7 linked regions of the Homo sapiens genome follow. The protein of the gene in region 1 purifies or fractionates together with the protein of each later gene. This does not show direct contact. Each region holds a gene or a part of one and is shown in the gene's direction. Other genes may lie near its edges. The genes, in order: TMEM74, MIS18BP1, CHST7, SPECC1, ZMYM1, YEATS2 and RRP12.

Region 1 (3,843 bases):
CTGTCAGAAACAGTGTGCATCCACCCCAAGAGCAACCGAGATGGAAGGGTCTAAACTTAGTTCTTCTCCAGCATCCCCCTCCTCCTCTCTGCAAAACAGTACTCTTCAGCCAGATGCCTTTCCACCAGGACTTCTCCACTCAGGGAACAACCAAATAACAGCGGAACGGAAAGTCTGTAACTGCTGCAGCCAGGAATTAGAAACTTCTTTTACCTATGTGGACAAAAACATCAACTTGGAGCAGCGGAACCGGAGCTCGCCATCAGCAAAAGGGCATAATCACCCTGGGGAGCTTGGCTGGGAAAATCCAAATGAGTGGTCCCAAGAGGCTGCCATATCTTTGATATCTGAAGAGGAGGATGATACAAGTTCAGAAGCCACGTCTTCAGGGAAGTCTATAGACTATGGTTTCATCAGCGCCATCTTGTTCTTGGTCACTGGGATCCTGCTCGTGATCATCTCTTACATCGTCCCACGGGAAGTGACTGTGGACCCCAACACTGTGGCAGCCCGGGAGATGGAGCGCCTGGAGAAGGAGAGTGCGAGGCTGGGGGCTCACCTGGACCGCTGTGTGATTGCGGGGCTCTGCCTCCTCACGCTGGGGGGCGTCATCCTGTCCTGCTTGTTAATGATGTCCATGTGGAAGGGGGAGCTCTATCGTCGAAACAGATTTGCCTCTTCCAAAGAGTCTGCAAAACTCTATGGTTCTTTCAACTTCAGGATGAAAACCAGCACGAATGAAAACACTCTGGAACTGTCCTTGGTAGAGGAAGATGCGCTTGCTGTACAGAGTTAATTCTGGTTGTGAATATCTTGAGAGTCTGCCTTGGCATTTTATAATATGAAAAAAGTTAATTTATAAAAATTCACAGTGCAATTTATTTGCCTGGCAAGAAAAGTTTATTTCACAAACCAACAGCCAGTAAGTGTTTTTGTTCTCTATGTGTCTTCTATTTAGAAGAAAAGCCATGTAAGATGTATAAGAAACCACAACCAGCCACACCTATCCTTCTGAAGAGCTGAAGGCTAATTAATCTGTAATGGCCAAGAACTTCTACTTCGATAGAAAAATATTTCTAATGACCCAGTCTACAAATTATTTCTTTTACACAAATATATGATGTTATTCTTTGGACACTAGGTGGTCCTACACACAGTAGGATCAATTGCTAATCTACTTTGTGAAAAAGAACTAAGCACTAATCAATAATAAGGCTTACATCTAATTCTCAAAGGTGCTTATCCATTTTCTTGCTAAATTATCCTTCTTGTAATTTGGCTAAACACTAAAACATGGAATTTTTAGTTTGAATATTTTGAAGTTTGAGGATGTTGGGCTTTCCTTATTGTAAAAAATGTTATGTTTGAAATTATTCCTGTTTTCAAAAATGGTAATTAAGTCATTAGGATAAACTTTCTAATAAAAAAAAATTATGTAAATCATTGTAAGACCAATGTGAATTTAAACCACAGTGTTGGTGCCAGATATTAGCCAGGGTCACAGGCTCTTTTTTAAAATGAAGTCAAATTAGTTACTGATATAAGTTTTATATTTTGTGATTTTGCCATCATACTGGTTATCTGTGCTCTTGAAGTCTGCTGGTTCTCACACCAGCAGCAAGAGGCAAGGCATGAGACATTTTAAATATATTTCCAGACATCTAAACATCTAGACAGGCCTGAGTCATGATTGGCTCTGGTGTGCTTCCAGGTAACATCTTGTTATTGCTGTTTGGGGAAAACCACCAATAGAATTGCAGCTAGACTTTTGGGGACTGTGCCTCGCAGGCTGTATCACTTGCTGTAGGCCAAGCAACGAGCACTTCCCTCATGGTAGCAACAGTCCTTAAGCCCAAAGCCAAAAAAAAATAAAATGGAAAGAGAGATTCAATACACTGATTTAATGGGGACTGTAGTCATCGTCAGAACTCACCTCCCACTCACAGTGGTCTAGATGTCATTCAGCAACTGTGAACTCTTGCCTCATGCAGCACAAACTCTTCTCTAAGAGCAGCATGATGAGCAAGGTGCTCACTTTGCAAGACACACACTGGGTGTTCACAGTGACAGACCGCCTCATTATGGTGACGGTTCAGAAAAGGGATGGGAAATGCAGCCTCAGAAATACCTTACATTTTGCAACTCTGCCTGGAGGTTTTTCCAACCTGTGCTCTAAGAGTTGTTGTAACTTCCATGATTGTGTTACCAGGATCAGGGGGTCATTCTTAAAAAGAGGACAGGAGCTGGGAATTGGTATGAGACAGCAGGAATGAGGAAGTAAGAAAGTGATTTCTTTGCAGATTTTTAAAGGCTATTTCAAATGTCTGAAGTTTGTGGTGTTGTGGACAACTGTGGAATACATGGGTGACTTTGGCAAAATGTGTGAATCAGGATATTTATGTGGATGAGCTCTCATGGGTGTCAGATTGATTTGATGAGTGAGGTATGCTGCATATGACTTAAGGGTTGAACTGAAATACAAAAAGGGAGGCTCAGAAGATAGTAAAAAGAGAGGATGGGCATATGAAAGAATTATTAAGTAAAAATGAGAAATTATATGGCCATCAGAGGAAGCTAGATGTAGTTAATTGCCTTATGTTATAGAGCAATACTGATTACTGAAAAGAAAGAATTGAGATGACATAAACATGATTTTTGCTTTCTGTTGCTGTATTTTTGTGCTTTTTGAACAAACTTTGTTTTACTGTGACTCTCATTTCATGATTTTTGTTGAGGCTGCCTTACCAGTGGTATAAGTTTTATATTCTGAAGGTTTCTAAGTCCAGCTCTAGCCTGCTTAAGGATCCACTTTGGATGATGTTGAAACAAGAAGGAAACGATCTGCTGAGTGAGTAGGTCTGAGCTGTGTGTTAAAAAAAGAAGGCATTAAAAAAAAGAAGGCATTAAAGAAAAAACTAATGTTTATTCATAGAAGCTAAATGAGATCAACTGAGTTTTTATTTATTGGTGAAACAGGATTAATTAGCCAAATGGCAGACTAAACTGAATTAATGTGGAATCAATTTTCAGTTTATGAAGGAAGAGGAGTTTGGGAATCAAGTGTTAGGAGGTCTTTTCACTTGATAATAAAGCTTTTCATGTGGAAGCATTTAATGAATCTTGCAGGGCTACCAAATAATATAGATTTGATCTAGAGGTAACATTTTGAAAAATGCCATTTTGGAAAAAAAATATTCAACGGGGGAGAAAAAGACCTAACACATCAAAATACATTTCCTTTCTTTTCCCTAGAATGCTATAATTTCCTTTAAAATTTAAAATCGAAATGTGGTAAGTAAATGCACACTTCAACATTATTTAAATCTGCTAACATATAGAGCACCTCTCTTTTAAGGTTCTACTTATCTGAGGGCAAACCATTACACATTACATGATTTTGAAAATCATCTGAATGACTTCTTTTGGGCTGTGGTGACATTATTCAGATACTTGCCTTAATCGACTTTTCCCTGGGTATTTGGTTTATGTAGCCCTTATCCATCCTGCCTGAATTCAATATGAAGATTACTTGAATTTAAAATGATGGTAACACAGGCAAAGAAAAGCCATGTGCTTTATTTCCTGTTTTTCCCAATCTGACAAAGAGTGTTTTTGGCTCTAGAGGTACTTTGGCAAGACCAGGTGATGCATTCTATAGACATTGGGCATACAATACCTATAGTTTTGGTCTTGCATCCTTCATGGAGATTTGTGACCTTCCGTCTGTCTCTTCAATATGGTGCTGGTTGTTACCTGTGAAAGTTTTTATTGCTAGTCCTAGAGAAGAAAAACATATTTCAGTGGTTCTAGGTCTTTAGCTTATTTACATGGTTTTAGAAATCT
Region 2 (4,283 bases), on another chromosome or scaffold:
TAAAATTGAATGACCATAAAAAGAATCAGTTCCTAAAAATGACAACTTTTAACAATAAAAATATATTTCAATCAACTATGCTAACAGAGGCTACTACCTCTAACAGTTCTCTTGATATCAGTGCTATAAAGCCCAACAAGGATGGATTAAAAAATAAAGCAAACTATGAATCACCAGGAAAAATATTTCTAAGAATGAAAGAAAAAGTACTGCGTGACAAGCAAGAACAGCCATCAAGAAACAGTAGTTTGTTGGAACCACAGAAAAGTGGAAATAATGAAACCTTCACTCCTAACAGAGTTGAAAAAAAAAAATTGCAGCATACCTACCTATGTGAAGAAAAGGAAAACAACAAATCATTCCAGTCAGATGACAGTTCACTAAGAGGTTAGTTTTATGTGTTAGCTAAAAAGCTGTAATGTCTTAAGTGTTTAATGTTTCAGACACTGTTTTAGGTGCTCAGAATATAGCAGTGAACAAAATGGACAAAAATCCTTGCCCTTGTGTAGCTCATATTCACATGGTGGGAAGACATAATTAACATATTAAATAAGTAATTTTTATGGCTTAGTAGAAGAGGAAAAGTGGAAAGAGGAAAAAGCAGAATTAGGATGATGGGAAGAGTTGGAGGGGGATGTAATTTTCAGTGCGATGGTCAGAGTAATCTTCAGTAATTTGAATTTGGGAATTTGAGCCCACAAAATTGAATGAGATGACAGATACATGTATCTTGAGGAATGGGGAAGGATGATCTAGGCAGCTGTTATAAACGCCTTGAAATAGCATGCCTGACATGTTGAAGGACTAGCTATGAAGTTAGTGTGTCATGGAGTGAGTAGATAGAGCTCAGAAGGAAGGGATAAATAAGAGTGGGTCAGATAATATAAGGGCCTTGTAGGTAAATGTAAGAGTTTTGGCCTTTACTGTGAGCAGAATAAGCCATCGGAGGGTTTTGAGCATGTGAATGACAAGATCTGACTTATGAGGGTTTTTTTGTTGTTTTTTAGTTAACCACTGTGTACAATGACAATGTTTTTAAAATGTCACTCTGGCTGTTCTGAAATAGAGTTACTGCAGTAAGCCAGATGACAGCCGGTGTTGGCTTGGTTCAGGTGTTAGTAGTGCAGATAGTAAATGTGCAGATGGTAAATGGCTGGACTCTAGGACAGACGGAAGGAGGAATGGAGTGCGGGCTCATTAACTAAGATTTTGTTATGTTAATTTTGATAACCTCTATTAAAAATCTAAGTTTAGGTATTAGGGTGTTGGAAAAAACTAGTTGGAATTTAGAGAAGTGATCAAGGTGAGAAAAGTACATTGGGGAATCATTAGCACCTAAATGGTATTTTAAAAGCAATGAGATTAGATGAGGTCATCAAGGAGTAAGTGTAGAAAGAGAAAACATTCAAGAGCTGGGTCCTGGGGTACTCCAGCATTTGGAAGGTAGAATAAAGAGTAGAAAGGCCGGCCGGGCACGGTGGCTCATGCCCATAATCCCGTCACTTTGAGAGGCCGAGGCAAGTGGATCACCTGAGGTCGGGGGTTCAAGACCAGCCTGACCAATGTGGAGAAACCCCATCTGTACTAAAAATACAAAATTAGCTGGGCTTGATGGCGCATGCTTGTAATCCCAGCTACTCGGGAGGCTAAGGCAGGAGAATTGCTTGAACCCGGGAGGCAGAGGTTGTGGTGAGCTGAGATCACGCCATTGCACTCCAGCCTGGGCAACAAGAGCAAAACTCCATCTCAAAAAAAAAAGAAATAAAAAAGAAAAGAGTAGAAAGGCCACTGAGAAGATTGTGAGGAAGAAGAAAAACCAGGAGAGTGATACTGTGAAAGCCAAGAGAATGAAGTACTTTAAGGTGGGAGTTGACAGCTGTCTAATGCTCCTAATTGGTCAAGTAGGCTGAGATTCTACTGCTCGTTTTAGCAATGTGAAGGTCATTGGTGACTTTGATGGAGGGCAGCTTTGGTGGAATGGTAGCAACGAAAACATTGCGTGAAAGGGTTCAAGAGATAATGTGACAAGAGGAATTGGCAATAGTGAACATAGACAGCTCTTTTTGAGGCTGGCAAAGAAATAATGGCAATTGTAGTTTAAAGTTTTATCATTTTTAATACTTGGTGAAATACAGCATTTTTATATGCTGTTGGGAATAATGGAGTAGGAAGAAAAAAAATTGAAGTTGCTAGTATGATGCCCTTCAGTAGTTGAGAGGAAATATAATCTAATGCATCATTAGCGGTTTGACCAGAACACAGACAGACCAATTGTTAACTGAAAAGAAAGCCGTTTACACAGATGTTGGTGGATTATTATTTTATGACTTCACAAATAATTTGAAATAAGTAAAGTCATCAGCTGAGCAATATGGAAAACAGGTATTGAAGTTTGAGGAGGTAGAGATTTGAATAGTTTGGGAGAGGCCTAAATTTGATTTCCTGGGTAACACAGAAGAGCTGTTTAAGATTTGTGAACATGAATTTAAAATGGAACCAGTAAATATGGCTGTGAGTTTTCCTTTAGCCCTGTTTTGCTGCTAAGATGCTGGTGTAGAATTGGGGGGAGTTGGATTTAACTGGGTTGTAATTTTGCCAAATAGAATGAAGTGACAGAAGGACAAAGGAGGGTGTGTGTGAAGGAGTCATAATGAAATTTAAGCTGATTAATGAGGGCAAAGGATCTGAAGGAGATGAGGGATTGTGAAGTGTATATTTTATTTGGATAGTCACTGGATTTGAGAGAATGATCTGGAAAGATGACACTACAACAATTAAAATTGAGATTTTAATGAGTTTCAGTCACTGATAATGAAAGATATTTTACATGTATTATCTCTTTTAATCCTTTCAACGAACACATGGGTAGATGCCCATTAGTGGTCTATAAATGGGGATTGTAAAGAGTGTAAGTCCGCTTGCTCTATGTCTCATAGGTAGCAAGTAATAAGCTGATAACTGAATATAGGTATCTGTTAGAAAGCCCATGTTCTTAACCACTACACAGTAGGTTGTGGGTATATTGTTGCATTTCCAAGACAGTGACATATTCTAACACAGAGTTTTCTAAGGGAGTTTGGGGGTAGAAGTGGGGAGACTCACAAAGTCATCTATTTCTCATATAGCCTGGGAGAAAAGGAAGAAGCAAATGAAATAATACATATTAAAGTTTTTAAATATAATAAGGTAGCATTTGAGAGTAAGAAATACCTGACCATTTTGAGAATCTGGTGACCCTTTCCCCCAGAAAATATAAACACAAATAGAAACACAAATTTTGTATATACTTTTAGAAACCTTTTAGAGAGTCTACATGAACCTGGGACTCCCACATAAGTGAATAAATATAACTTATTGCATTTGATTGAATTACTACTGAATTGCCTTGCCATTTCTTGTAGAATGAGTTAAAGATATAGAAACTTATTGTTTCTTTTTGTGACACGTTGTTATAATGAAATCTTTATCTTAAGATTTCTGAGACCAAAGTGGCATACTTATTAAAGCATAGTCACTACCAGTTTTTTCAAGTATAAAATTTAAAATTAAACATATAAGATAATTCTTCTCAGGCTCAAATTTTAAGTCTATTATCATCCCCTTTTTGTGTGAAAGAAACTACATTCGAGAAACATTAAACTTTAAAAATCTAGGAGGTAAAGCAGAATAAGATGCAAGCAGTGCTATTAGTCCTTATTTATCTAGTTGAGAAACCTACAACTTCTGAGCATTTGAAGGCCTACTAAAAATTGTCTAAAGGATATAAATTATGGCTGAGTCTGCTGTTGCATCTCAACATTTTAATTTTTAAAGAATAAGTTACAATTCTTCGACTATCTTTCATGCTTTAGAAATTCACAGCAACCAGAAACAGAATCGGAATTTTCAAGACTGGGTGAAACTTTATATTGTAATCTTAACATATACATATCCAATTTGTGGCAGCACCAGAATTTCAGATCTCTAGGTTTCTAAGTCCAATACTTTTGTCTAGAGCTGGCGGGTTGTGTTCAGAGAAGGTTTTAAAAAATTCTTCCTCACCGTAATGTTGGTATAGAGAATGGGGTAAAGGTATGAGAAGATAATACAGCCAAAAATATAAAAATATATGTAACTGTCATATATTGCAAAAGTACTATACTGGTCTGATCATTACTAAATCTAAGTGTCTTTATTTCAAGAATTTTAAAAGCTGTTTTTTTCTTAGTGACTAATACAATTCAACTTCTTCTTTCTTTAAAAAATAAAACCTTAGCCTCAGTCCAAGGAGTTCCTCTAGAATC
Region 3 (4,283 bases), on another chromosome or scaffold:
TTCACAGGCCTGAGGGAACTCCTCCCCTGGGCGGAATGCTGTGCATTTTATGGCTTTAAGACATGACAATCTCCCAGAAACTTTTGCTTTTTTTTTTTTTTTTTTTTCATTTTTACTAACATCTATTTGAGTACTGGCTGGGGTGAAGCATTAAAGAGAATAGAGAGGAGGGTAGAGGACAGTCTTTGCCCTCTAGGAGGTTAGAGTCTGTGTGGGTGACAGTGACTGTGAGGGAAGACACTGGTGTTGCTGTTTGGAAGGCCGATGGGGCTTCCTTTGCAGGGCTGCAGGGACATCTGGGAGCAAGCTTTAGGCTCTTCCAGACTTTAGTGACTGAGTCCTTCCTCCCGCATTGGGCACTTACCACCAATCAGTGGGTTGATTACAGTGCTTGTATTCTTGGTTCCTAGGAAGATAACGTTACTGCCGACTCACTGATGGGTTTTCCAAAAGTTTGTCACACTCTATTCTAGAGAAGGGAGGAGAAGAGAGGGGGAGGGATCCTTACTGAAGGGCTATGTGTCATGCACTGAGTTAGGCATTGTACATATATCATTATTTATACCAGTTTTCCAGATGAGGAATCCGAGACTCAGAGAAGTAATTTGCCCAAAGTCATACCTGGGCTGGTGAGGGTGGAACAGTGTTTGGTGTTAGACTCCAGAGCTCATAATCCTCTCTTTTATACCTCACCTGGCCCCTGCCTTGGCATTCCCTGGCAGCACCCTGATACTCCAGCTAGGCTAGTATGAGGTGGAAAACACACTCAGCTTTATTACTAATATGTCCCAACCACTGAACAAATAAAATATCCCTGAGCTGCCGACAGTGCCTACACAGGAAAGCCGACAACTTTACAGCCATCCTCCCCACAGGGCATCTCAGGGTGCCCTCAGCTCAACTGAGGAGAGAGGCCACATGTGAATTAACCTGAGTAACTTCTGGATGGTCCATACCCAATGGCCAGGATTTGGCAGTGAGGGAGTCAGTGAAGTTTTTTCTGGTCTGGGTAGGGGCCGTAGCACCCTGAACCAAGTCACCAAGGACCTAGGCCCTTTCTATCTTTTACATCTTGGCTTTCATTCACTGGCTTATCTTCCCACTGTAACAAGATGGTAGCCACAGCTCCAAGCAAAACATCTTCACACAACGACACAGGGTTATTAAAATACAGAAAGGAAGGAAGCTATCTAGCCAGTAAGGGGTGGAGGGGTTTTTCCTCCTGCCATGCTCTTTTTTTTTTTTTTTTTTTTTTTTGAGTGGCAGCTCTTACTCTGTCACCCAGGCTGGAGTACAGTGGTGTAATCTTGGCTCACTGCAATTTCCTCCTCCCAGGCTCAAGTGATCCTCCCACCTCAGCCTCCCAAGCATCTGGGCCCACAGGTGCGTACCACCACATCCAATCTTTCACCCAGGCTGGAGTGCAATGTCATGGCTCACTGCAGCCTCAACTTCCCAGGGTTAAGCAATCCTCCCACCTCAGCCTCCCAAGTAGCTGGGACTACAGGTGCACACCACCACTCAATCTCATTAAAAGAAATTTTTTTTTTGCAAAGATTGGGGATGGGCGGGGAGTGGGGGCTCTCACTGTGTTGCCCAGGTTAGTCTCGTACTCCTGAGCTCAAGCTATCTGCCTGCCTCGGCCTCTCAAAGTGCTGGGATTATGGATGTGAATCACTGCACCCAGCCTTAATAAATTATAACACCTTTCCCAGAACCCCCTTTACCAGCCGACGTCCCTTTATGTCTCATTAGCTAAAACTGGGTTATACAGCCTGCCCTAGCCCAATCATTGGTGAAAGGGAATGGGAGCATTGTGATTGGCTTAGACCAGCGGTTCTCAGCCCTGGCTGAACATTACATTTACATGAGGAGCTTTTTTATTTATTTTTTTAATGCCAATGCCTGAGCTCCACCCCCAGAGATTCTGATTTAAGTAGTCTGGAGTGGAGTCCCCAGACTCAGGCACTGGGATGTTTGAAAAGCTCCCCAGATGATCCTACTGTATAGCCAAAGCTGAGAACCTCTGGCTCAGACCAGTCATGGTTCATCCCCTGGGCCAGATGGGACCAGAAGGCTGCCACCGGAACAAGATCAGGATGGGGAATAAAGGGCTGTTGATGAGCACTGAACTGCTTGCCACAGTAATTTATGTGAAAGAACTTGGAGCTATGAAGTGCCAAGCAGATGTAGAGTGTTATTATGGAAAGGGGAAAATGTCCTCAATTATACATGGGTCCATTTATCACCCTCTCACATGCCTTCACATGCTTTGTTGTCTGTAGCTCATTATCTAATTATCTAATAATCCATCATTGTACACTATCCACCACTGTTCTGGACAGACTGATGTGCTATCCTGTCCTTTTCAGCATGTCTCCCTTTAATGTCTGCCCTTGGTAGGTCCCAAAGTTTCATCCCGCTAGGCATTTAAGGCACCTTGATCTTTGCTCTTGACATGACATATGCATCCTTTGAAAGAAATTAGGAAAGAAGGCAAACACCCTGTAATTTGAACCCTAACAATCAGGAAGCTTTCTTTCTAAAGAAATCATGTAAACAGGAAAAGAAATGATCAACCACCACCAAATCATTTTGAAAATCTATTTTAATCAGGAAACTGGGCCACAAACATTTTATATAGGCTTATGTATAAATATCACTGAGGCCGGGTGCAGTAGCTCACACCTATAATCCCAGCACTTTGGGAGGCTGAGGCAGGAAGATCGCTTGAGGTCAGGAGTTCAAGACCAGCTTAGGCAACATAGTGAGACAACCCCCACCATCTTTACAATTTTTTTTTAAACTAGCTGAGGGTAGTGGCGCGCATCTGTAGTCCCAGCTACTTGAGAGGGTGAGGTAGGAGGATCGCTTGAGCCCAAGAAGTCGAGGCTGCAATGAGCTGTGATCACGCCACTGCGCTCTAGTCTGGATGATAGAGAGAGACCCTGTCTCAAAAGATAAATAAATATCACTGAAAAGTGAAGCTGTTGCTTACACACAGACTGCTAAAGAATGGGCATTTTTTTTTTTTTTTTTTGAGATGGAGTCTTGCTCTGTTGCCAAGCTGGAGTGCAGTGGTGCGATCTCGGCTCACTGCAACCTCTGCCTCCCAGGTTCAAGCAATTCTCCTGCCTCAGCCTCCCCAGTAGCTGGGACTACAGGTGTGTGCCACCATGCCCAGCTAATTTTTTTGTATTTTTAGTAAAGACGGGGTTTCACCATGTTGGCCAGGATGGTCTTGATCTCTTGACCTCGTGATCCACCCGCCTCGGCCTCCCAAAGCGCTGGGATTACAGGCGTGAGCTACCGTGCCCAGCCCAGAATGGACATTTTTGAAACATTGCTCCTATATAGAATTTCTCATTCAACAAAATTATCTTCAGACTCCTAATAGCATATCAACCTGGGTGCTAGGTTTGAGCCAGAGAGCTGGAAGTTAGGATGGTGTGTGTGTGCGCATGTGTGTGTGCACATGGATAGGTACCTGAGTAGCAGGGCTGCAATGAGGTGTGAACAATTTTTAAAAATACATCCATGTCCAAATCATTATTGCTCCTTGTGAGGTTAATGCTACCTTTGATCAAGGCACTCGGAGCTCCCATTTGGGCCTGCCTTCCCTGGCAGGACCCCTCAGCTGATGGATACGGTGTTAAGGAAAAGTCAAGACTTGTCAAGTCTGATGAGTGAACAGGGAAGGAGGCTGGTCCTACAAAGCAAGGGGTGGACATAAAGTAGTAACAGTCATTCCTTGCTTTCTATATGAAGTCAGTTTTTGAATTACGGCATGGGAACCCAGGCATCAGGGCCTGCCTCTCCTGGTTACTACTTAATTGACCTTTGGCAAGTCCCTAAACCTTTTCAGCTTTAGTGTTCTTACCAATAAGAAGAGGAAGTCAAATTAAAAGGATTTCTGGGCCAGGCGTAGTGGCCCATGCCTGTAATCTCAGCACTTTGGGAAGCTGAGGCGGGCGGATCACTTGAGGTCAGGAGTTCGAGATCAGCCTGACCAACATAGTGAAACCCCATCTCTACTAAAAATACAAAAATTAGCTGGGCATGGTGGCGGGCACCTGTAGTCCCAGCTACGCGGGAGGCTGAGGCAGAAGAATCACTTGAACCCTGGAGGCAAAGGTTGAAGTGAGCTGAGATTGCACCATTGCACTCCAGCCTGGGTGATAGAGCCAGACTCTGTCTCCAAAAAAAAAAAAAAAATAATAATAATAATAATTAAATAAGGGCCAGGTGCAGTGGCTCATGCCTGTAATCCCAGCACTTTGGTA
Region 4 (4,283 bases), on another chromosome or scaffold:
ACTCTGAACGCTGAGGGGACTGATGCTTTGGGCCCAAATGTCGATGGAACATCAGTCTCCCCAGGTGACACGGAACCTATGATAAGAGCTCTTGAGGAGAAGAACAAGAACTTTCAGAAAGAGCTTTCCGATCTAGAGGAAGAAAACCGGGTCCTGAAGGAGAAACTGATCTATCTTGAGCACTCCCCAAATTCAGAAGGGGCAGCAAGTCACACTGGCGACAGCAGCTGCCCAACATCCATAACTCAAGAGTCAAGCTTCGGAAGCCCAACTGGAAATCAGATGTCCAGTGACATTGATGAGTATAAAAAAAACATACATGGAAATGCATTACGGACATCAGGCTCCTCAAGTAGCGATGTTACCAAAGCTTCTTTGTCGCCAGATGCTTCCGACTTTGAGCACATTACAGCAGAGACACCCTCAAGGCCCCTGTCCTCCACCAGTAACCCCTTTAAGAGTTCAAAGTGTTCTACTGCTGGGAGTTCCCCAAACAGCGTAAGTGAATTGTCCCTGGCTTCCCTCACAGAGAAGATACAAAAGATGGAAGAAAACCACCATAGCACTGCAGAAGAACTACAGGCTACTCTACAAGAATTATCAGACCAGCAACAAATGGTACAGGAATTGACAGCTGAAAATGAGAAGCTGGTGGATGAAAAGACGATTTTAGAGACATCCTTTCATCAGCATCGAGAGAGGGCAGAGCAGCTAAGTCAAGAAAATGAGAAGCTGATGAATCTTTTACAAGAGCGAGTAAAGAATGAAGAGCCCACCACTCAGGAAGGAAAAATTATTGAACTGGAGCAGAAGTGCACAGGTATTCTTGAACAGGGCCGCTTTGAAAGAGAGAAGCTACTCAACATTCAGCAGCAGTTGACCTGTAGCTTGCGGAAGGTTGAGGAAGAAAACCAAGGAGCTTTAGAAATGATTAAACGTCTGAAGGAAGAAAATGAAAAACTGAATGAGTTTCTAGAACTGGAACGGCATAATAATAACATGATGGCCAAAACTTTGGAAGAGTGTAGAGTTACCTTGGAAGGGCTAAAAATGGAGAATGGATCTTTGAAGTCTCATTTGCAGGGTGAGAAGCAGAAAGCCACAGAGGCCAGTGCTGTGGAGCAGACGGCAGAGAGCTGCGAAGTTCAAGAAATGTTGAAAGTAGCCCGAGCAGAGAAAGATCTACTGGAACTGTCTTGCAATGAGCTCAGACAAGAATTACTAAAGGCAAACGGTGAAATTAAACATGTTTCCAGTCTGCTGGCCAAGGTGAGAAGAGACAGCTCTTTACTGGTATTTGCTCATCCTTGTTCACATTTCTGCCCTTAACCTCTAAATTCACAGAGCACAGAGAAGCATTTGCTTAGTCTGTTTCATTCACGAAGCCAGCATTCCAGCTTGAAGGCCTGTTAGATTGCACACAGGTTGGGATTGGGGGATACAAAAAGGAAACACCCAAATTTCTGATTATGGGCGGTTCAAAATGTGGGGATGTAGAGTCAAATCAGAGTATGATGCAGTGATAAAAGAATATCATACAGCCTATGCCCAGGCTCTAGTCTAGTGCAAAGGAGGGGCATCTGGTGTAACGTGGGGGTTGGGCGTAGCACAGAAGGACTTCCTGGAAGAAATAGCAACTGAGCTGAGTTCTGAAGATTGAGTGGGAGTTTGCCAGTCTGTCAGCATGCTTTTAGCTGCCAGTAACAGAAAATGAAATCACTCCCAATTTTCAACTAAAATATTACCACTATTTTGGTGTTTTCTTCCAGATATATGTGTGTGTATGTGTATCATACAAGTTACACAAATTTATAATCATCCTGTACATGTTATTAACTTTTTTTGCATTTGACATTTTAGAAATATTAAAACTTTTCTCAGCATATTCCTATCATTAAATATTCATTTAAACATTATTTTAAAGGCCAGATACTATTTTAATATAAATATTTCATATTTACCCTGTTGTTGAACATACATGTATTGTCAAACATTTGTGGTCTTTCCAGTCTTTCAATATTATAAATACTTTTTTATATCTATCTTACTGTTTATTTAGGAAAAATTCCTAGACGATGACTTACCGAGTCAAAGAGTATAAACATTTTAAAGACTTTCAACACATTCAGCCAGATTGCCCTTCAGAAATATTATGCCAGTTTATTCATCCTAGCGGTCATGAGATCATGAGCTTTCCTGAGCCTTTGCCAGCACTTGGTATTACATTGTTATATCATTTAAATCTGTTAATCATTTCATTTTTTTAACCTTTTTTGCTTGGGAAGATCTTCCATAGCCCAAGAGCAAATAACTTTTCTCAACACTTTAATCAGCCTGTAATTTTGTTTTTGATGCAAGAATTGTGGTGATTTTATGATATTCTGCCCACCTCCCAGAGCAGTGCTGGAGAGGTGCAGAGAGATGGCCTCCTATTTCTTGTTCCCTCCAAGTTCTGGGTCTGATTTAGGGATCTACTGGCAAGAGAGATTCAAAACATCTTCCTACCTTAGTTTAGGGGTTGTCATTGTTTCAAGGAGCAAATTATGCCATGAGCTCTCAGGGAGATTTTTCTCCACTGCTTCGTCTGTCTTAAGATGAGTCTGTTGCAGCCTGATTCTGCAATTTGGCCATCTGATGAGCTTAGTGGTGGGTCATGTTAAGGAGTTTCTCTCTTTGTCTGTATTCTAAATTTGTAGGTATTTTATTGAAAGTACGGAAGTAATTCCATTAGAGGTTACTAGTCAGGCTTGGCATTGGGTTTTAATATCTTGTGGAGTAAGATTATTCTTTTTTTACTTTAAGATTACTCACTACTCTCTGGCAAAATGTTTTATCTCCCATGTGCACCTTCTTGAAGTTCTTTATCAGTCCCTCTGTGTTTTTGGTAGTTTGGCATTACATTAAATGTGCATATCAGTGAGAAATAATTTGACATCTTAAAAATAGCTTATTTTTTTCTGATCATAAAATATTTTTATTACAGACGATTTAAAAAGTACAGAAAAGTATAAAAAAGAAAAGTATTACCTTTAATTTCACCACTTGGAGAAAAACTGCTAACCTTTTGCTGTATGTCCTTTCAGGCCTTTTCTCAGTTTATACATGTTTGAGCATGCATAAAAACTTGCATTGATATGATTATGATATTTTGTCTTCCTATCCAGAAGAGTAGAGTATGTCTGTCCACATTCCATTACAAAGAATCAGTTGGATTAGTTTATCTATTCCACTATTAATCTGTTTCTGATTAACTTGTTTCTACTTTTATCTTTATTAATTTTTTTGTCTTATTTTTTGTACATTTTGGTTTCTTGACTAAAATTCTTTGTTCATTTAACTTTTTTTTATCCTTGGTTGATAATGAAAGCATTTAAAGTTATAGCTTTGGTAAATAGAGGCAATAAAATCTGGAATCTTCTGGAATAAACTAAATGTAATTTAAAGGAAAGTGTGCATTTTCTGTAGAGTGCAAGGCACAACATATATGTTTAAAATCAAACTGTTATTATTCATGTATCCTACATCTTACTGCATGCTAACTAGAAGTATCAAATACTGATAGTAAGAAGGGAAAGGTCCTAGCTAGTATTTTTAGGTGAGAGTTTGAGGTAAAGATGGGGGCATGCTATCACATAGGGTTTCTTGTATATCTATCAAGACCCTAGGTTTGTGATTTTGTGCTGTCTTATGTGCACAGAGACTGATTTGTAATTGCAGTGGACTTGTAACATACTAATCTTCCTACCCTTTTACATTACTGTAGAAAAAGCAAAACATAGACCTCCTAAATGGACTAATACTGATTGTATCTCTACCACAGACTATCAAGTAATCTGCCAACAACCATGAATTTAAATGATAATACTTAAGAGACTCATGTCCAAAGGATAACAGGAGAAGTTTTAGCACAAAACTATGATGAAGGGTCTAACATGCTGGACTGGGTCCTCTTGACTTACCCAGTGAGCAATGATGTGACCTTGGGCAGGCCCCTTTACATTGTGCAATGTCGAATAGAAGCGTGACGGTGGATGGATCCTGGTCTCGTATCTAATTCCAAGGGAAGCATTTAACATTTAATTATGATGTATGTTTTTTGTAGGCATTTGGTACATACCTTTTATTATGTTATGCAAGTATTTGCTAAGAGGTGTTTTGTTTGGTGGTTTATTTTTAGAGACAGGTTCTCGTTTTGTCACTTAGGCTGGAGTGTAGTGGCGATTATAGCTCACTGCAGCCTTGAACTCCTGGGCTCAAGCAATCCTCCCACCTCAGCCTTTCTG
Region 5 (4,283 bases), on another chromosome or scaffold:
GTCACACGGAATTTTTTTTTCTCACCCTACCACTTGGCCAAGACAGAATATTTTTTAAATGTACTTAAGGATGAAGTTTAAATAATTTAAAATATTTTGCTGTTTCATTGAGTACTTCCTTAAGTGAAACTGATACTTTAAAAAGAATTTTTTTTGGCAGTGAATGTATAGCAGGGAATAACATGAATATTAGCACATTTTGGTGCCACTGCCTTGATTTCTGCTAAGGCTCTGACGGTTTTACCCACCATTGCCTTTTTTCTTTTCCAAATTCATTGAAGTGAAATTTGTATACCAAGAAATTAACCATTTCATTGGCATTTAGTATATTCATAATGTTGTGTGACCATCCCCTCTATCTTGTTCCAAAACATTTCCATCACTTCAAAGTAAAACACCTTAAACACTAAGCAGTTTCTCCTAATTTCCCTCTCCCCCCAGTGCCTGTCAACCACCAGTATGCATTATATCTATAGATTTTATCTATCCTGAATATCTCATGTAAATGGAATCATATATGACCTTTTTGTGACAGGGTATTATTACTCTGTTGCTCAGGCTAGAGTGCAGTGACTTTTTGTGTCTGGTTCTTTCCCTTAGCATAATATTTTCAAGGTTTGTCCATGTTGTAACATGTATCAGTACTTTATTCTTTTTGTTAATAGGCGAATAATATTCCACTGTATGTATGTAACACAATGTGCTTATTCATTCATTCACTTACTGATGAACATTTGGGCTGTTTTCATCTTTTGACCATTGTGAATAGTGCTGTTATGAATATGCACGTACATGTGCTTGTTTGAGTACCTGTTTTCAGTTTTTTTGGGTGTTTACCAAGGAGTGGGATTGCAGGGTCCTACCATTAGCTTTGCAACATCAGTTGCAAAGTGATGTTGCAAACATCAACACGGTGAAAAAGCAAATAACATCTTACTATGAAAATAGTTTTGATCTTGGGGACTCCCCCAGGGATTTGAAGACCATATTTTAAGATTCTCTGTCCTATAGATTCTAGAGTTGCTCATGTGAATATGTGATCTCTCATCATCCCTCGGTTTTCACTAGCACCACCTAATAATACAGGCTGGCTAGTCTCCAAAACTACATCTTCAAAGTCAGGCATGGTGGGATTATGTGCCTGTAATCCTAGCTATGTGGGAGATTGAGGTGGGAGAATCTCTTGAGCCCAGGAATTTGAGGCCAGCTTGGGCAACACAGCAAGACCCTATCTCTTAAAAAACAAAACTGCACTATTAGATGTGCTTTATAATCTGTAATGTATAGATGAGAAAATTAAAATTTAGGGAGTATAAATGTGACAGAACTGGGTACCAAATTCAGGTTTTCTTATTTCAAGGCTAATGTTCTTACTCTAATTTGAGAGGTCATTTCATTTATAAAGAGAAGTTATAATTGTGTTTAAACTGTTTAATGATGTCCTTGTTATTTATTCTTAGAGACATTTTAAATCCAAAGGATGTGATTAGTGTCCAGCTGGAAGACACTACCTCTTGCAAAACTTTTTGCAGCCTATCTTGTCTTTCATCATATGAAGAAAAAAGAAAACCATTTGTTACCATATGTACTAATAGCATTTTGACCAAGTGCAGCATGTGCCAGAAGACTGCTATTGTAAGTTCCAATTATAACCTTTACAGGGATTCTGATGATTCTGCTTAAATATCAGAGTTTTTACTGAATCTTTTTATTAAATCCTAGATTCAGTATGAAGTAAAATACCAAAATGTGAAACATAATCTTTGCAGTAATGCCTGCCTTTCAAAGTTTCACTCTGCTAACAACTTCATCATGAACTGCTGTGAGAACTGTGGCACTTACTGTTACACCAGCTCTAGTCTGTCCCACATACTTCAGATGGAAGGACAGTCTCATTACTTTAATAGTTCAAAGAGTATTACAGCATATAAGCAGGTATGAATAAAGACCTATTGTTTCTTCTATTAACTGGCCTATGAATGGTTTCACTCTAGGAAAATGTGGGAAGTAGTTTTTGGTACCCTTTGGAATAATGTCGATAAGTTGATGAAGATGAAATAGAAGGCTTTTAACGGTTTCTTCTTGCATAAGAATTCATGATAAATGCTATATGGAGATTTTCCTAAATAATCTCAGATCGATTATCTCACCTTAAAGAAAAGGCAGGCAGGCTGGAGCCGGTTTATAAACTAGAAATAAGTATAGCAAAAATAACAATAGTCTGCTGGTCAATAAAACCCAAACACAAAAGTATTTTTGTTTTTATTTTTATGTATTTATTTTATTTCTTTCTTTTTTTTTTTTTTTTTTTTTTTGGTGAGATGGAGTCTTCCTCTGTCACCCAGGCTGGAGTGCGGTGGCGCGATCTCGGCTCACTGCAAGTTCTGCCTCGCGGGTTCATGCCATTCTCCTGCCTCGGCCTCCCAAGTAGCTGGGACTACAAGCACCCGCCACCACCACGCCTGGCTAATTTTTTGTATTTTAAGTAGAGATGGGGTTTCACTGTGTTAGCCAGGATGGTCTCAATCTCCTGACCTCGTGATCCACCTGCCTTGGCCTCCCAAAGTGCTGGGATTACAGGCATGAACCACCACACCTGACCTTATTTATTTTTTTTGAGACGGAGTCTCGCTGTCTTGCCCAGGCTGGAGTGCAGTGGCACAATCTTGGCTCACTGCAACCTCCGCCTCCCAGGTTCAAGCAATTCTCCTGCCTCAGCCTCCCAAGGAACTGGGATTACAGGCGTAAGCCACTGTGCCCAGCTATTTATTTTTTTTATTTATTTTGATTTTTTTGAGACGAGGTCTTTGTCAGCCAGCTTGGAGTGCAGTGGCAATCATGGCTCACTGTAGCCTTGACCTCCTTAGCTCAAGTGATCCTCCCACCTCAGCGTCCCGAGTAGCTGGAACTACAGGCACACACCACCACACCTGGCTAATTTTTAATTTTTTTGTAGAGACAAGCTCTTACTATGTTGCCCAAGCTTGTCTTACAACTCCTGAACTCAGCTGATCCTCCTGCCTTGGTCTCCTAAGGTGCTGGGATTACAGATGTGAGCCTAGCCATGTTTTTGTTTTTAATTCCACGTGTTTAACTCTTACACCAAACAATGCAAAGATGAATCAAGAATGTCACATGTGGACAGTCATGGTGGCTTACACCTGTTATCTCAGCACTTTGGGAGACCAAGGCGGGAGGTTCAGTTGAGCCAGGAGTTCAGAACCAGCCTGAGCAACATAGCAAGAACCTGTCTTTAAAAAAACAAACAAAAAATATCACATGCTTTCTCTGAGTCAGTCATAGGAGGAAATAATCCAGTGAGATTAGTATTATTTGTCCCTATTTCTGATAGACAAGCTCTGGGTGGGTGCTTCTGAGAGCAGAGAAAGAGCAAATGAGATGAGGTGGGACTTCTTAGATATGTTGCTTGTTCATATCATATTTTGAGACCCAACTCTATCCCTATACAGACTTCCTTAAAAACAAGCAGTTGGCCGGGTGCAGTGGCTGATGCCTATAATCCCAGCACTTTGGGAGGCCGAGGCTGGCCGATCACCTGAGGTCAGGAGTTGGAGACCAGCCTGGCCAACATGGCGAAAACCCGCCTCTACTAAGAATACCAAAATTAGCTGGGCATGGTGGCAGGCGCCTATAATCCCAACTACTTGGGAGGCTGAGGCAGGAAAATCTCTTGAACCCGGGAGGTGGAGGTTGCAGTGAGCCGAGATGGCACCATTGCACTCCAGCCTAGGCGACAGAGTGAGACTCCGTCTCAAAAAAAAAAAAAAAAAAAAAAAGCAGTTGAAGATGGGAGTCAAAACAAGCCATAATTCAAATAGATCATTTGTGACTCACATCTTTTCTATGGCCCCCATCTTGAGAGTATCCTGCCTTGGGACCAGAACGGAAAGCACAGAAGACTTCTCCCAAAGGCAGGAAATAATATTCCTTTTTTTTTCTTTCTTTCTTTTTGACACTCAATAGGCCTTGTTCTGGGTTGTTTTTTGTTGTTGTTGTTGTTGTTGTTTGTTTTTTGAGACGGAGTCTCGCTCTGTCGCCCAGGCTGGAGTGCAGTGGCGCAATCTCAGCTCACTGCAAGCTCCGCCTCGCGGGTTCACGCCATTCTCGTATCTCAGCCTCGCGAGCAGCTGGGACTACAGGTGCCCACCACCACGTCTGGCTAATTTTTTGTATTTTTAGTAGAGACAGGGTTTCACCGTGTTAGCCAGGATGGTCTCAATCTCCTGACCTCGTGATCCGCCCGCCTCGGCCTCCCAAAGTGC
Region 6 (4,283 bases), on another chromosome or scaffold:
GAGCCGATATTGCGCCACTGCAATCCAGCTTGGGCAACAGAGTGAGACTCCATCTCAAAAAAAAAAAAAAAGCTTCCTAAAGCTTCAACAGTAGACTTGTGTAGTACAAATCCCCTTCGTTCTAGATCTCCCCACTTTGGTTTTAGGATTTAGCCTTTGTTCGTTCTGCTTGTTTCTTTTTCTGTTGCTGGCAATAAAACTTTCCAGTTATGATGCATTATGCTTTTAATACCCTGCTGGATTGGATTTGTATGTGTATTTGCAGTGAAAGCTTGTTTGCCATTTTCCTCTGATGGTGACTTTTGACCACATTTCCATAGGTTTGGAGATACTGTGTTCTCGTTAGTTTTTAAATAGTCTGTTACTTTAGTTTTAATTTCTTCTTTGAGTCATGAGTTATTAGAAGAGTGTCTTATTTTCCATATCATGGTGAGCTAATATTAATTTTTATTAAGATCAGAATGTGGCTGTAATATTTCTACATTTTGCAGTAATTTGAGACTTTCTTCATATCTTACTGTATGATTTACATTTTATGAACTTTTTTTTTTTTGAGACAGAGTCTCACTCTGTTGCCCAGGCTGGAGTGCAGTGGCGTGATTTCGGCTCACTGCAACCTCCACTTCCTGGGTTCAGCAGTTCTCCTGCCTCAGCCTCCCAAGTAGCTGGGATTACAGGTATCCACAACTATGCCCAGCTAATTTTTGTATTTTTAGTAGAGACGGGGTTTTACCACATTGGCCAGGCTAGTTTCAAACTCCTGTCCTCAAGTGATCCACCCACCTTGGACTCCCAAAATGCTGGGATTACAGGCATGAGCCACTGCATCCGACCTTAATGAACTTTTATAGATATTTTTAAAAGATTTTTTTCTGTTGGGTTCAGAGTTGTGTGTATTTGTTAATTCTGGCTTGTTAATTACCAGATATATATCTATATCATCTTTTTTGTTTGTTGTGTTTGTTTTGTTTGAGACGGGGTCTGGCTCTGTCACCCAGGCTGGAGGTGCAACGGCGCGATCTCAGCTTAACTGCAGGCTCCATCTCCTGGGCTCAAGCAATCCTCCTACCTCAGCTGCCCAAGTAGCTGGGAGTACAGGTGCTTGCCACTACTCCTAACTAATTTTTGTATTGTTTGTAGAGACAGGGTTTCACTGTGTTGCCCAGGGTGGTCTTGAACTCCTGAGCTCAAGCGAGTCACCTGCCTCAACTTCCCAAACTGCTGGGATTACAAGCGTGAGCCACCACGCCCGGCCTATCATCTGTATTTTTATAAATTGTCTTAATCTTTTAAATTTTATATAGAGATGTGTGATTTCTTAAACTTTCCTTTTTCTGTTTGTTGTATGTATTTTGATACTATATTGTTGGATGTATAGTTTAAGATGTATTTTTGTGATTGTGCCTTTAATAACATCATCTTTATCATGTTATTTTTTTTGCCTTGAATTCTATTATTAATATTGCCTTGCTTACTGTCTTTTTGTTTGCATGTGTCTGTGTATAATAACTTTGTACATTCTTTTAAACATTTAGCTAAAGAGCCTTTAAAGATGTAGCAATATCAACAAATAGATTAATGATGAAAACTAATGTAAGGTAGTAGTTATGTTCCCTGTGGTCATTTATATTTTGGCAGATATTTTAGTTAATCCTTCATTTATGGCTGGGCGCAGTGGCTCACGCCTCTAATCCCAGCACTTTGGGAGGCCGGGGCAGGCAGATCACGAGTTGAGGAGATCGAGACCATCCTGGCTAACATGGTGGAACTCCATCTTTAGTAAAAATGCAAAAAAATTAGCCAGGCATGGTGGCGGGCGCCTGTAGTCCCAGCTACTCGGGAGGCTGAGGCAGGAGAATGGCCTGACCCGGGAGGCGGAGCTTGTAGTGAGCCAAGATCGCACCACTGCACTCCATCCTGGGTGACAGAGCAAGACTGTTTCAAAAAAAAAAAAAAAATCCTTCATTTATTTTTCCAGATAGTAATATTGAGCACTTCCAGGAACTTTGGAGGGAGAAGGTAGGGAGAGCTGTGTTGGATGGGGCACGGTCAAGGAAGGCCCCTGATAAGGGGGAGATTTCAGCTGGAATCTGATTAAGCTAACCTAAGAAAAGAGCATTCCAGATAGAAGGAGCCATGATTCCAAAAGCTCAAAGGAAAATTGGGAGTATATTTGAGGGATAGAAAACCAACCTGTCTGGATCTTAAAGATTAAGGATGGAGAGGGAGACAGGGCGCAGTTCACATCTCTTAGGTCATGTTAAGGAATGGAAATTTGTTCTAAATGTTATGAAAAGCTATTTGAAGGATTCAAGCAGGGGATGACATGATCAGAAAAATATTCTTATTGTCCTTTTCTAAAGTGAGGTATAGTTTACAGACAGTGAAATACAGATTTTGCGTGTACAGTTGGGTGTTTTTGCAATTGGATATACATACCCATCTAACCTACACTCTTATTAAGATTAGTGGAGCACTGTGGGAGGCCAAGACGGGCAGATCACCTGAGATCGGGAGTTCGAGACCAGCATGACCAACATGGAGAAACCCCGTCTCTACTAAAAATACAAAATTAGCCCGGCGCGGTGGCGCATACTTGTAATCCCAGCTACCCAGGAGGCTGAGGCAGGAGAATCGCTTGAACCCGGGAGGCGGAGGTTGCCGCGAGCTGAGATTGTGCCATTGCACTCCAGCCTGGACAACAAGAGCGAAACTCTGTCTCAAAAAAAAAAAAGTTAGGTGGAGCATTGGTAATCCAAAAATCTGAATCTTAAATGCTCCAAAATCTGAAACTTCTTAAGCACCAACATGATGCCACAGTGGAAAATTTCACACCTGACCTTGTGACTGGTCAGTTAAAACATAGTCAAAACTTTGTGTTATGTTTTGAATTATTTAAAATGTTGTATAAAATTACCTTCAGGCTCTGTGTGTAAGATATTTATGAAGCGTAAATGAATTTCATGTTTAGATTTGGGTTCCTTCCCAAAGATATCTTACTATGTATATGCAAATATTCCAAAATCCAAAACAGTATGAAATCTGAAACAGTTCTGGTCCCAGGCATCTTGGGTAAGGAATACTCAACCTGAATAAAATATTTCTAAGAAAAAAGTCTTCATTCCTCTTCCCAGTCAGTCCCTAACACCAGCACCTCCAACTATGATTCTCATTTCTTTCACTATAGATTAATTTGTCTCTTCTAGAACTTAAGTGGGATAATTTAGCTTGTACTCTTGTGTTTGCCTTCTTTGGCTTGCCATAATGATTTTGAGGTTCATTTCTGTTGTTGCCTGCATCAAGAGTTCATTGAGTATACCACGATTTGTTCGTCCATTCCTCTGGTTTGGACTTTTGAGACATTTTTGAAATGTCATTGGCTAATGGAAAATGGATTGTAGAGTCTTATTCAGATATTTAATAAAGGAACACTGGTTGTCTTGTTTACAAAAGAGAATGTATTTTCTTTTAAGACTGTAGAAAGGACAGGGCCAGGAACTATGAAATCATTATCAGCATCTTAGGAATGCCTGTCTGTATGGAAGCAGATAGAAAATGATTGTACTACTCCCCTTCCCCACCTATTTTTTTTTTTTTTTTTTTTTTTGAGACGAAGTCTCACTCTGTCACCCAGGCTGGAGTGCAGTGGCGCAATCTCGGATCACTGCAACCTCTGCCTCCCGGGTTCAAGCAATTCTCCTGCCCTGAGTAGCTGGGATAACAGTGCATGCCACCATGCCCAGCTAATTTTTTGTATTTTTGGTAGAGACGGGGTTTCACCGTGTTGATGAGGCCGGTCTCGAACTCCTGACCTCGTGATCCACCCGCCTTGGCCTCCCAAAGTGCTGAGATTATAGGCGTGAGCAGCCAGCATGCCCGGCGTCCCCCTCCCCAACTTTAAACCAGATGGGAAGTCTTGAGTGAGAGCCCCAAGTTCAGTGGTTCTGATATTCAAATGATGTGAGGCACATAGAATTATTGAGATGATACCTCATATGATATATGGCAAATCTTTCAAGTGTCTAATTTATCAGATTTTACTCCTTTCTCCTCAAGAATTGGCCACTTTTTTTTTTTTTTTTTTTTGATACGGAGTCTTGCTCTGTCACCAGGCTGGAGTGCAGTGGCACGATCTCGGCTCACTGCAACCTCTGCCTCCTGGGTTCAAGCAGTTCTCCTGACTCAGCCTCCCGAGTAGCTGGGACTACAGGCACTCGCCACCACATCCAGCTAATTTTTGTATTTTTAGTAGAGATGGGGTTTCACCATGTTGTTGGCCACAT
Region 7 (4,283 bases), on another chromosome or scaffold:
CGAGGTGGGCAGATCATTTGAGGTCAAGAGTTTGAGACCAGCCTGGCCAACATGGTGAAAACCCATCTCTACTAAAAAATTAGCCTGGCATGGTGGCATGCGCCTGTAATCCCAGCTACTTGGGAAGCTGAGGCACGAGAATCACTTGAACCCTGGAGGCAGAGGTTGCAGCGACCCAAGATCGCACCACTGCGCTTCAGCCTGGGTGACAGAACGAGACTCTGTCTCAAAAAAAAAAAAAAAAAAGGCCGGGCGCGGTGGCTCACGCCTGTAATCCCAGCACTTTGGGAGGCCGAGGCGGGTGGATCATGAGGTCAGGAGATCGAGACCATCCTGGCTAACAAGGTGAAACCCCGTCTCTACTAAAAATACAAAAAATTAGCCGGGCGCGGTGGCGGGCGCCTGTAGTCCCAGCTACTCGGGAGGCTGAGGCAGGAGAATGGCGTGAACCCGGGAAGCGGAGCTTGCAGTGAGCCGAGATTGCGCCACTGCAGTCCGCAGTCCGGCCTGGGCAACAGAGCGAGACTCCATCTCAAAAAAAAAAAAAAAAAAAAAAAAAATACGTATATATATATACATATATATATATATATGTATATATATATACGTATTTTTTTTTACCCAATTTTGTTATTTAGGTTTACCAAAATGTGATTAGTTTCTTTTCTTTTCTTTTCTTTTTTTTCAGACAGAGTCTCACTTTGTCACCCAGGTTAGAGTGCAGTGGCTGATCAGCCTTCCAATTCCCAAGTAGCTGGGACTACAGGGGAGTGCTACCATACCAAGCTAATTTTTGTATTTTTTGTAGAGATGGGGTTTGCCATATTGCCCAGATTGGTCTTGAACTCCTGGGCTCAAGGGATCTGCCCACCTGAGCCTCCCAAAGTGTTGGGATTACTGGTGTGAGCCATTGTGCCCTGCTTGATTAGTTTATTTTTTATCCACTGTTCTGCAACTTTTTCCCTACTGAACGATATTTATAAGTTAATATATAGTTGTTCTCATTCTTTTGAATAATGCACTATTTAAATTTTTCATTATTATATAATGATACAGTCAGGTCTCTATATTTGCGGGTTCTGCACCTGCAGATTCAACCAAGCATGGATTGAAAAATCTTTTTAAAATAATAATAATATACCAGGCGAGGTGGCTCACGCCTGTAATCCTAGCACTTTGGGAGGCCGAGGCGGGCAGATCACTTGAGGTCAGAAGTTCAAAACCAACCTGGCCAGCATGGTGAAACTCCATCCCTACTAAAAGTACAAAAAATTAGCCTAGCGTAGTGGCACATGCCTGTAATCCCAGCTACTCAGGAGGCTGAGGCAGGAGAATCGCTTGAACCCGGGAGGTGGAAGCTGCGGTTAGCAGAGAGTGCGCCACTGCATTCCACCCTGGGTGACAGAGTGAGACTCTGTCTCAAAAACAACAACAACAACAACAACAACAAAAATACAGTATAACAACTATTTATATAGCATTTACATTGTGTTAGGTGTTACCAGTAATCTAGAGATGATTTAAAGTATATGGGAGGCCAGGCATGGTGGCTTATGCCTGTAATCTCAGCACTTTGGGAGGCTAAGGAGGGCAGATCACTTGAGGCCAGGAGTTCAAAACCAGCTTGGTCAACATGGTAAAACCCCATCTCTACTAAAAATACAGAAATTAGCTGGGCATGGTGGTGCACACCTGTAATCCCAGCTACTTGGGAGGCTGAGGCAGGAGAATTGCTTGAACCCAGAGGCAGAGGTTGCAGTGAGCTGAGATCATGCCACTGCACTCTTGCCTAGCTAACAGTGAGACTCTATCTCAAAAAAAATAAATAAAGTATATGGGAAGATGTATATAGGTTATACACAAATACTACACCATTTTTTATAAGGGACCTGAGCATCCTCGGATTTTGGTATCTTTAGGGGTCCTGGAACCAATCCCCCCCTCGATAACTGCAGTACATTAGAGACAACTACAGTACATTATTAATCTCCTGTTGATGGCTTCTTGACCATTCCAATTTGTTGCTGCCATGAACATCCTTGTACATAAATATTTGCACACTCATCTCATGCAGGTATTTCTAGAAGGTTAGTACCTCATGGTGGAATTTTAGCAAGCATTTTCTGAGTCTTGTTATTTGCTGGGCCCCCTGGTATGGACCTAGGCCCTGAATGTTGCCTGTCTTGTCTGTCTCTGGGCTTTAACCAGAGATTAATCTGTGAAGGAGCAAGGAAAGGAGGTTCCCCTGGGGTGGGGTTAGGTCTAAAATAGTCACAGTGCTTTCTCCCTCCTGTGCAGATCTGTGCTGTTCTGGCTGCTGTCACTGAGGTGATTCGCTCCCAGGGAGGGAAGGAGACGGAGACTGAGTACTTCGCTGCTCTGGTGAGTGGGTGCCACTGGAGGGTGGGTGTTCAGAGCAGCAGGTTATGCAAGATTTAGCGAGAAGATGAGTGCCCCTGGCATGTGGGGGTAGAGAAGGACAACCTTGACCAGGTGAAAGTGCTTCAGTTATTCTCAGGTGGCTTAGGAAGGCTGGTGGTATTTGCTACCTTTTAATTTTCTCTTTTCTTTTCTTTCTTTCTTTGTTTCTTTTTTTTAAAGAGACAGGGTCTCACTATGTTGTCCAGGCTGGTTTCAAATTCCTGGGCTCAAACCGTCTTGTCATCTTGCGGTGGCCTCCCAAATTGTTGGGATTACAGGCATGAGCCACTGCAACTGGCTACTTATTACTTTTTTTTTTTTTTTTTTTGAGGCGGAGTCTCACACTGTCGCCCAGGCTGGAGTGCAATGGCATGTTCTCAACTTATTGCAACCTCTGCCTCCTGGGTTCATGTGATTCTCCTGCCTCAGCCTCCCGAGTAGCTGGGATTACAGGTGCACACCACCATACCCGGCTTATTTTTTGTATTTTTTAGTAGAGAAGAGGTTTTACTATGTTGGCCAGACTTGTCTCGAACTCCTGACCTCGTGATCTGCCTGCCTCAGCCTCCCAAAGTGCTGGGATTATAGGCCTGAGCCACCAGGCCTGGTCTACTTTTTTTTTTTTTTGAAACAGAGTCTCACTCCGTTGCCCAAGTTGGACTGCAGTGGCACGATCCCAGTTCACTGCAACCTCTGTCTCATGGTATCAAGCAATTCTCATGCCTCAGCCTCCTGAGTACCTGGGATTACAGGCGTGCGCCACCACACCTGGCTGATTTTTGTATTTTTAGTAGAGACAGGGTTTCACCATGTTGGCCCGGCTGGTCTCGAACTCGCAACCTCAGGTGATCCCCCCTACCTCAGCCTCCCAAAGTGCTGGAATTACAGGTGTGAGCCACCATGGCTGGCCTACTTATTACATTAAATAAATAAATATATTTGTGTATGTATGTATGTGTGTGTGTGTGTGTATATGTGTATATATATACTTTTTATTTTGTTTTTGGGTTTTTTTGTTGTTGTTTGTTTTGTTTTGGAGACAGGGTCTCACTTTGTTGCCCAGGCTGGAGTGCAGTGGTGTGATCATGGCTCACTGCAACCTCCACCTCCTGTGTTCAAGTGATGATCGTGCCTTAGCCTCCTGAGTAGTTGGAATTACAGGCGCCTGCCACCATGCCCAGCTAATTTTTGTATTTTTAGTAGAGACAGAGTTTCGTCATGTCGCCCAAGCTTGTCTTGAGCTCCTGAGCTGAATCAGTTCTCCCACTTTGGCCTCCCAAAGTGCTGGGATTACAGGCATGAGCCACCATGCCCAGCCTGGTTATTACATTTTTAAAGAATTGTTAAAACACACACAAAAAGAACATACAACAGAGACCAAGTGTGCATGCAAAGCCGAAAATATTTACTATCTGGTCCTTCGTAGAAAAAGTTTGCCAACCTCTGCTCTAGAATAATGAAATAAATTAGATGGCAGTATATGGTGTTTGGCTGGGTGTGGTGGCTCACGCCTTTAATCCTAGGACTTTGGGAGGCCAAGATCGGAGGAGTGCTTGAGGCTAGGAGTTCGACACCAGCCTGTGCAATATAGTGGGACCCTGTCTCTACAAAAAATAAAATAATTAGCCAAGCTTTGTGGCGCATGCCTGTAGTTCTAGCTGCTTGGGAAGTTGATGTGGGAGGATCTCTTGAGCTTTGAAGTTCAAGGTTACAGTGAGCTATGATTATACCACTGCACTCCAACCTGGGAGACCCTGTCTCTCAAAAAAACTATCTATCTATCTCTGTATATATATGCACATAAACATATATATAGTTTATTTATTTATTTTTTTTGAGACGGAGTCTCACTCTGTCACCCA

What was found.
Region 2: the proteins of TMEM74 (region 1) and MIS18BP1 purify together in Homo sapiens (co-immunoprecipitation; 2 studies listed by BioGRID and IntAct, with this or other methods). This does not show direct contact.
Region 3: the proteins of TMEM74 (region 1) and CHST7 purify together in Homo sapiens (affinity purification with mass spectrometry; one large-scale study listed by BioGRID and IntAct). This does not show direct contact.
Region 4: the proteins of TMEM74 (region 1) and SPECC1 purify together in Homo sapiens (co-immunoprecipitation; 2 studies listed by BioGRID and IntAct, with this or other methods). This does not show direct contact.
Region 5: the proteins of TMEM74 (region 1) and ZMYM1 purify together in Homo sapiens (affinity purification with mass spectrometry; one large-scale study listed by BioGRID and IntAct). This does not show direct contact.
Region 6: the proteins of TMEM74 (region 1) and YEATS2 purify together in Homo sapiens (co-immunoprecipitation; one large-scale study listed by IntAct). This does not show direct contact.
Region 7: the proteins of TMEM74 (region 1) and RRP12 purify together in Homo sapiens (affinity purification with mass spectrometry; one large-scale study listed by BioGRID and IntAct). This does not show direct contact.

The regions. Positions count from the first base shown.
Region 1 is NC_000008.11:108,781,134-108,784,976, reverse strand, and holds part of TMEM74 (transmembrane protein 74), read left to right. Parts: coding exon 1-796; 3' UTR 797-3,843. UniProt on the Homo sapiens protein: Plays an essential role in autophagy. TMEM74-induced autophagy may involve PI3K signal transduction.
Region 2 is NC_000014.9:45,242,847-45,247,129, reverse strand, and holds part of MIS18BP1 (mis18-binding protein 1), read left to right. Parts: coding exon 1-387; intron 388-4,255; coding exon 4,256-4,283. UniProt on the Homo sapiens protein: Required for recruitment of CENPA to centromeres and normal chromosome segregation during mitosis.
Region 3 is NC_000023.11:46,577,037-46,581,319, forward strand, and holds part of CHST7 (carbohydrate sulfotransferase 7), read left to right. Parts: intron 1-4,283.
Region 4 is NC_000017.11:20,204,644-20,208,926, forward strand, and holds part of SPECC1 (cytospin-B), read left to right. Parts: coding exon 1-1,269; coding exon of another isoform or gene 1,270-1,293; intron 1,294-4,283.
Region 5 is NC_000001.11:35,102,835-35,107,117, forward strand, and holds part of ZMYM1 (zinc finger MYM-type protein 1), read left to right. Parts: intron 1-1,460; coding exon 1,461-1,635; intron 1,636-1,722; coding exon 1,723-1,935; intron 1,936-4,283.
Region 6 is NC_000003.12:183,704,095-183,708,377, forward strand, and holds part of YEATS2 (YEATS domain-containing protein 2), read left to right. Parts: intron 1-4,283. UniProt on the Homo sapiens protein: Chromatin reader component of the ATAC complex, a complex with histone acetyltransferase activity on histones H3 and H4. YEATS2 specifically recognizes and binds histone H3 crotonylated at 'Lys-27' (H3K27cr).
Region 7 is NC_000010.11:97,394,317-97,398,599, reverse strand, and holds part of RRP12 (RRP12-like protein), read left to right. Parts: intron 1-2,298; coding exon 2,299-2,382; intron 2,383-4,283.